Regions from separate parts of the Homo sapiens genome. Here region 2 is reported to be linked to region 1. Evidence: microRNA targets listed by miRTarBase, many of them from high-throughput screens and not tested one by one. Region 1 holds a microRNA gene; the other region holds the end of a gene's coding sequence.
Evidence for each region. The annotated mature microRNA hsa-miR-6860 reads ACUGGGCAGGGCUGUGGUGAGU and lies in region 1 at 1,789-1,810, shown strand. An mRNA with a match to its seed (bases 2 to 7 or 8) in the 3' UTR can be bound and repressed. Matches are read on the target gene's strand: a 7mer-m8 pairs with bases 2 to 8, a 7mer-A1 pairs with bases 2 to 7 and ends in A, and an 8mer does both.

Region 1 (3,510 bases):
CACACATACACTTCCAGGAAGGGACTCCATCATCCTCATCATCCTCTGCAATAGCCTGAGCCCCATCATCATTAGGAGAGCAGAGAAGAAGACCTGAGCCACATCCGAGGAAACTGCTTGCTGCAGGCAAATTTCAAAAACATCCCGACCACTGTTTACAGCTCGTCTGCTGCTTTGCCACCAAAGCTTCAGAGGTTCTACCCCTACTGAGCTTCTGCTAGAGAAACATTCCTCTAGCCTTAGAGGGGATGATTTCAGACAGACACCAAGCTGCACTTTAGTTTTATAATTGTAGGAATGCTCACAGAACATCATTGTTGTTTAATCAAAGAATCTAATTCCATTCCACTCTGATCGCTGTGTATTACTACCGCAGTGTTTTCCTTGGCCTGCAATGAGGGAACGAAACTACATTTGATAGCTACATTTGACAGGCCGCCTCTGACCCTCCGCCCCAGGCAGGACCCTCCCGGTGGAAGGGAGGAGTGGGGCATGCTCCATGCAGTGGCGGGGGGTGGGTGGCTGTCCCTTTCTCCAGGCTGTCCCTGCCTGCCTGGAGCCCTGTGGTAAGGGGCCCCCAGTGCAGCCACTTCTCTATGGAGAAGGAAGCCCCAGCCTTTCCCTGGCAACCAAGGCTTTCCCTGGACCCCTCAAGTCGGGTGGGGAGAAGCCCTCTGAGCCACCTGTCTGTCCCCCAGGCCGCCGATGCTGTGGGGGAGATCCTGCTCTCCCTCAGCTACCTCCCCACAGCCGAGCGCCTCACCGTGGTCGTGGTTAAGGCCAAGAACCTCATCTGGACCAACGACAAGACCACAGCGGGTAAGGCCCAGCCGGCAGCCCGGCTCCTCCACGTAGCTCAGTGGAAGCTGTGGCCCAGCTGCTGTGCTGTGGGCACCCGGAGGCATCGGCAGGTGTGGGACACAGTGCCAAGGTCCCCCTCAGCTTTGCTGAGCCCAGAAGTCATGCAGATGGATAGGGGGTGGCATGGGGACAATTAATCCAGCCGGGGAAACATGAGATCCCTGGAGGGTGGCAGGGGCCCCTGTGAGGGCAGAGTGAAGGGGGTCAGAGTGATGCGGGGGTCTCAGGGCAGGAGGCCGCACTCAGGGCTGGGGGCACTGGGCAGGGAACCAAGGTGGGCATCTGTTCCCTGGAACTGGAATTCATGGTGGAGACTCCATTCCCAGAGACAGGGCAGTATCCCAGACTCCAAAAAGGGACCAGGGCCACGGGGTTGGGGTGGGTGCCAGGCAGGACCCGATGCCTTAGGTCTGCAGGAGTCCCCAGTCCCTCTCAAAGCAGTGACCGTGGAGGCAGCTGTATTCTAGAGAACTGAAGACCAGGGGCTGGGGGAGCCTGATCTATTGGGAGTTGCAAGCCTTGGGGCGGGGGTAGGTGGGGGGGGCAGCTCCAGGCAGGTGCGGCAAGGACACCCCGTGGGCAATAGGTGATGGGCAGACGGCAAGTTGTTATTTCAGAGCCGCACACGGTTGAGTCAGGCTCTGCTGTGCGGGTGCCCGGTGACTCAGGGCTGACGTCTGCACTCGGGCCATTTATAGAAGGAACACGGTGGGGCTGCTGAGTTCCCCAGAGCATCCTAGGAGGGGAGCGCGTGGGCTGTGAGGCAGCTGCCTGAGCACAAAGCCCAGCCCTCACCTGACGTGCTGTGTGAGCCTCAGTTTTCTCATCTGTGAAATGGGAAAAATAATAAAGGACCAATGGCAGGGCTGCAGGAGGTCACAGCAACAGTTAAGCATTGGGGAGTTTGGAGTCGGTGGGTGGAGCCAAACTGGGCAGGGCTGTGGTGAGTGAGTGTGACACTGGCCCTCACCTGTCCGCCTGCCCACAGACCCCTTCGTCAAGGTGTACCTGCTGCAGGATGGGAGGAAGATGAGCAAAAAGAAGACAGCCGTGAAGAGGGATGACCCCAACCCGGTGTTCAACGAAGCCATGATCTTCTCGGTGCCAGCCATTGTGCTCCAGGTGAGGGGGGCTGGGGGATGGGAAGGGGCCAGGTCACCCCAGGGCTCTGGGGCTGCCGCATCTCTCCACCTTCTCTTCTCAGGGCCCCTGCAGGGGTAGTGGTTTGCCTCCAGCCATCACTTTCTAGCAGTTATTGAGTGCCACTGGGGCCAGCCCTAGGGTGGGTGCTGGGGACACAGGCATGGCTTTCTCGGTGCTCACAAGGGACAGGCAGGAGAGTCCCTAATCCACTAAGAGTGTCCTCAGGTGAGGGGGGATTCCTGCAGGAGGGGATACCCAGCTCTGAGGGAGGACCATTCCTGGTGGAGGGAACTGCAGAGGGTTGGAGAGGAGCTGGGGTGAGCCAGGCACCCAGAGTTCCTGCTCTGAATCTCCCAAGCTCCATTTCAGGGTTCTGCTGAACTCCCCAGGTTCGCGTGGTCTTCAGAAGGTGACATGCTCCAGGGAGACCTCTCCCAGCAGGGACATCACAGACCACGGGTGGGGCTTGAAGATAGGGCTTGGGCCCTGCTTGCATGCCTCGGAGGATGGGGCTCGCACCACCTTCCCTCACTATCTCTAGCCCTCCTCGGCACTCCTGACAATGAGAAAGTCCTTTGTGCCTTGAGCCAAAACCTGCCTCCATAGCCCCAGGGCTGTACAGAACCCGCCTAATCTCCCCCAACCCGGGGACCCCGCCAGCATGTAAAGGCCCAGAATCTGCCTCACTCTGAGTGTTCCTAACCCGGGCACACCCCAGCATCTCTGGCCCATCCTGGGTATCGTAGCCTTCACCTGCCACCCTCGTGGAGCAGGCTGCCCATGTGTCCTCTGCCTCTCCCTGGGTGTCATAGTGCCACTTCTCCACAGCCTCTAAAAGCAAGAGACTTCTTGGGACCATGGGGGAAGTGGAGGAGGAGAGAGATCGGGCTGGGTTTGAGTTTCAGCTCCCGCTCTCATCTCAAGCAGTCTCTCCCGTCCTCGGTTGTGAGTGCAACGTGGTGATATTAGTAATAGCAACGCAACCTCTAGCATGTTCTGACTGTGCGCAGGTGCCGTTCTACACAGTTCACTCTTTTTGTTCCTGAAACAGCCCTATGAGATAGAAACCAATTTTTTTTTTTTTGAGACAGAGTCTCACTCTGTTGCCCAAGCTGGAGTGCAATGGTGTGAACTCAGCTCACTGCAACCTCCGCCTCCTGGGTTCAAATGATTCTTCTGCCTCAGCTTCCTGAGTAGCTGGGATTACAGGCACCTGCCACCACACCTGGCTAATTTTTGTATTTTTAGTAGAGATGGGGTTTCACCACGCTGGCCAGGCTGGTCTTAAACTCCCAACCTTAGGTGATCCACCCACTTCGGCCTTCCAAAGTGCTGGGATTACAGGTGTGAGCCACTGTGCCCACCCCCAATTTTTTTTTTTTTTTTTTGAGACAGAGTCTTGCTCTGTCACCCAGGCTGGAGTGCAGTGGAGTGATCTTGGTCACTGCAACCTCCACTTCCCAGGTTCAAGTGATTCTCCTGCCTCAGCCTCCCGAGTAGCTGGGA
Region 2 (3,000 bases), not on the chromosome of region 1:
TGGAGCAGGCTGGGATGTGGGAAGGCCTGGTGGCCTGGCCTGTGGACCGCCTGTGGACCGCTGGGAGCTGGCTACCTCCGAGCTGGAGGTGGTATCCGGCATCTCTGCCAAGGATGGCTTCATCTCCGGCATTGTCTACCTGTACCGAAAGTGGAAGGCGACCCAGGTTGAGGAAGTGAGATCCAGCCCCCAGCCCCCAGCTGGCCCCTGACTCCATGTGGCCTTAGCTGGGCCCATCTGCTGGGCCTCCTCTGCCTCCCCTGTAAAATGGGACCTCCGAACCAACCCTGCCCCTCAGAAATGCCCTGCCTATTAAATGAGCTCCCAGAAAACAGTGGCATCTGTTCCTGTGGGTTCCAGAATCGAGACGTAGCAGGGTGTGGTGGCTCACACCTGTAATCCCAACAATTTGGAAGGCCAAGGCAGGAGGATCTCTTGAGACCACGAGTTCAAAACCAGCCTGGGCAACATAGTGAGACCCCTATCTTAAAGAAAAATTGTAAAAATTAACACTTTGGGAGGCCGAGGCGGGAGGATCACTTGAGGTCTGGAGTTCGAGACCAGCCTGGCCAACATGGCGAAACCCTGTCTCTACTAAAAATACAAAAATTAGCTGGGCATGGTAGCACACCCCTGTAATCCCAGCTAGTTGCGAGGCTGAGGCAGGAGAATTGCATGAGCCCAGGAGGCGGAGGTTGCAGTGAGCTGAGATGGTGCCACTGGGTGACAGAGCGAGACTCTGTCTCAAAAAAAAAAAAAATTGGAAAAATCAGCCAGGTGCCGTGGGTGCATGCCAGCTATTTGGGAGGCTGAGACAGGAGAATCACTTGAGCCTGGGAGGCAGAGGTTGCAGTGAGCCCAGAGCACACCACTGCACTCCAGCCTGGGCAACAGAGCAAGACTCTGTCTCAAAAAAAAAAAGAAAAGAAAAGAAAAAAAGCAAGAAATGATGGAGAAGACCCCTTCCTGGGGCCTCCCTGGATCCCTCCTTCCAGAGTGCTGGGTCCGCTCACCTCTAACTTACTGACAAGAAAATGAAGCCTGAGCAAGCTTGGAACATGCTTTGCACAACAGTAGCAGGGCAGAGACTCAAGGCCAAGGCCAAGCCCAAGTGGTTGCTGAGGCCCAAGTCCTGTCCTGGACAGCTCCCCCACCCAAATTTGGAGTCCAAAATCCCAAGCTGTAGGTCTGGGCCTGGGCCACACTTGGTTTCCTCATCGATCAAGGGATCAGAATGCCGAGCTCTGGGCGTGGCTTGAAGGCTGCCCTCCAGGTGAAAGGCATTTGGTGACCCTCAGCACCTCAGGGATGTGAACAGGGCTGATAATAATTTCTCCATCCAAGAGAATGGGAAGACTTCATGGGGGAGGAGGCTGGGAGCTGGGCTTTCAGGACGAGCAGGATCCAGAGGGTGGAGAAGGGAAAAGGGACATTCCAGGCTGGAAGCAGGGACCGGCTGTGCAAAGGCTGGGAAGGGGGACCTGTAGGGTGACTCAGCAAAGAGGAACAGACCAGCCTGACTGCCCAGACAAAGCTGCAACAACAGCGGGGTGGGGGTGGCAGGTGGCCCATACCTCGGAGCTGGGAGCCCACGTGGGGACGTCCCTCCTGGGGTCCCCAACCCTTCACCGGGGTCCCGGGCATACGCTGTTTTCTGTATATGGGTTTACCCTCCAACCCATATACAGTGGACAAGGTGATACCTTGGGGGCCCATTTAATTTCTTTTTTAAGGTGATACCTTGGAGGCCCGTTTCGATTTTTTTTTTTTTTTCGTTAAGAGATAAGGTCTCGCCCTGTCACCCAGGCTGGAGTGCAGTGGTGCGATCAAAGCTCACTGCAGCCTCAAACTCCTGGGCTCAAGCAATTCGCCTACCTCGACCTCCCCAAGTACAGGGATTACAGGCATGAGCCACCACACCCAGCTAATTTTTTTAACTTTTTGTAGAGATGGTGCCACTATGTTCCCCAGGCTGGTCTCAAACTCCTGCCTCGAGCGATCCTCCCACCTCGACCTTTTAAAGTGCTGGGATTGCAGGTGCTCACTACCGCACCCGGCCCAGCTCCAATTTTTCACAATTCCCTGGATCTCGTTTTTTTTTTTTTTTTTTAAGTGTTTATGTCCCGGCCAAAACACAGTGGTCCTGCCCCTGACTGACCCCCCCCACCCCCGCACCCAGGCCTCCAGCCCTTCCCCACCCACCTCCACAGTTGAAATCAGAGACAATAAAATTTCCTCCTGTGCACAGGTCCCATTTATTGTAGAAAATAATAATAATTACAGTGATGAATAGCTCTTCTTAAATTACAAAACAGAAACCACAAAGAAGGAAGAGGAAAAACCCCAGGACTTCCAAGGGTGAAGCTGTCCCCTCCTCCCTGCCACCCTCCCAGGCTCATTAGTGTCCTTGGAAGGGGCAGAGGACTCAGAGGGGATCAGTCTCCAGGGGCCCTGGGCTGAAGCGGGTGAGGCAGAGAGTCCTGAGGCCACAGAGCTGGGCAACCTGAGCCGCCTCTCTGGCCCCCTCCCCCACCACTGCCCAAACCTGTTTACAGCACCTTCGCCCCTCCCCTCTAAACCCGTCCATCCACTCTGCACTTCCCAGGCAGGTGGGTGGGCAAGGCCTCAGCCATACTCCTGGGCGCGGGTTTCGGTGAGCAAGGCACAGTCCCAGAGGTGATATCAAGGCCTACCCGGAACAGAGGAGATGCAGGCAGACAGAGTGGGGAAAATGTAAATGGGGACAGTGGCCAACGCCGATGCAGGCAGATCCCAAAGTCAGGGTTAAGCTATCCTGGCCAGCAGAAGCCAGCTCCCCACTCCACCACCACACCCTGTCACTTCCGTCCCTCCCCAATATCCAGAGGAGGGTGGACTCTGTTCTTGCTAGCAGGAGGCGGCCTTGGGAAGTTGTCCGAGTGGGCCAGAGAGGCTGAAGGCTGCTGCCTTCCTGCCTGGCTCAGTCTCTGCCCAGTCCCCAGTCCCCAGCAGCCAGTGGCC

Region 2: the mRNA of METTL27 is a reported target of hsa-miR-6860. The part of its 3' UTR that is shown has no 7-base or 8-base seed match.

Annotation. Positions count from the first base shown.
Region 1 is chr11:67,043,895-67,047,404 of GRCh38, forward strand. It overlaps MIR6860 (microRNA 6860), which reads left to right and starts at 1,749; the gene lies at 1,749-1,814. It overlaps SYT12 (synaptotagmin 12), which reads left to right. Exons shown (of 8, transcript NM_177963.4): 6 at 699-819; 7 at 1,850-1,983. RefSeq lists enhancers at 2,202-2,331, 2,432-2,511.
Region 2 is chr7:73,831,922-73,834,921 of GRCh38, reverse strand. It overlaps METTL27 (methyltransferase like 27), which reads left to right. Exons shown (of 6, transcript NM_152559.3): 6 at 1-332. The coding sequence ends at 179. It overlaps CLDN4 (claudin 4), which reads right to left. Exons shown (of 1, transcript NM_001305.5): 1 at 2,232-3,000. Among named protein-coding and RNA genes, the nearest start is that of CLDN4, 2.4 kb to the right of the region's middle. RefSeq lists an enhancer at 2,835-3,000.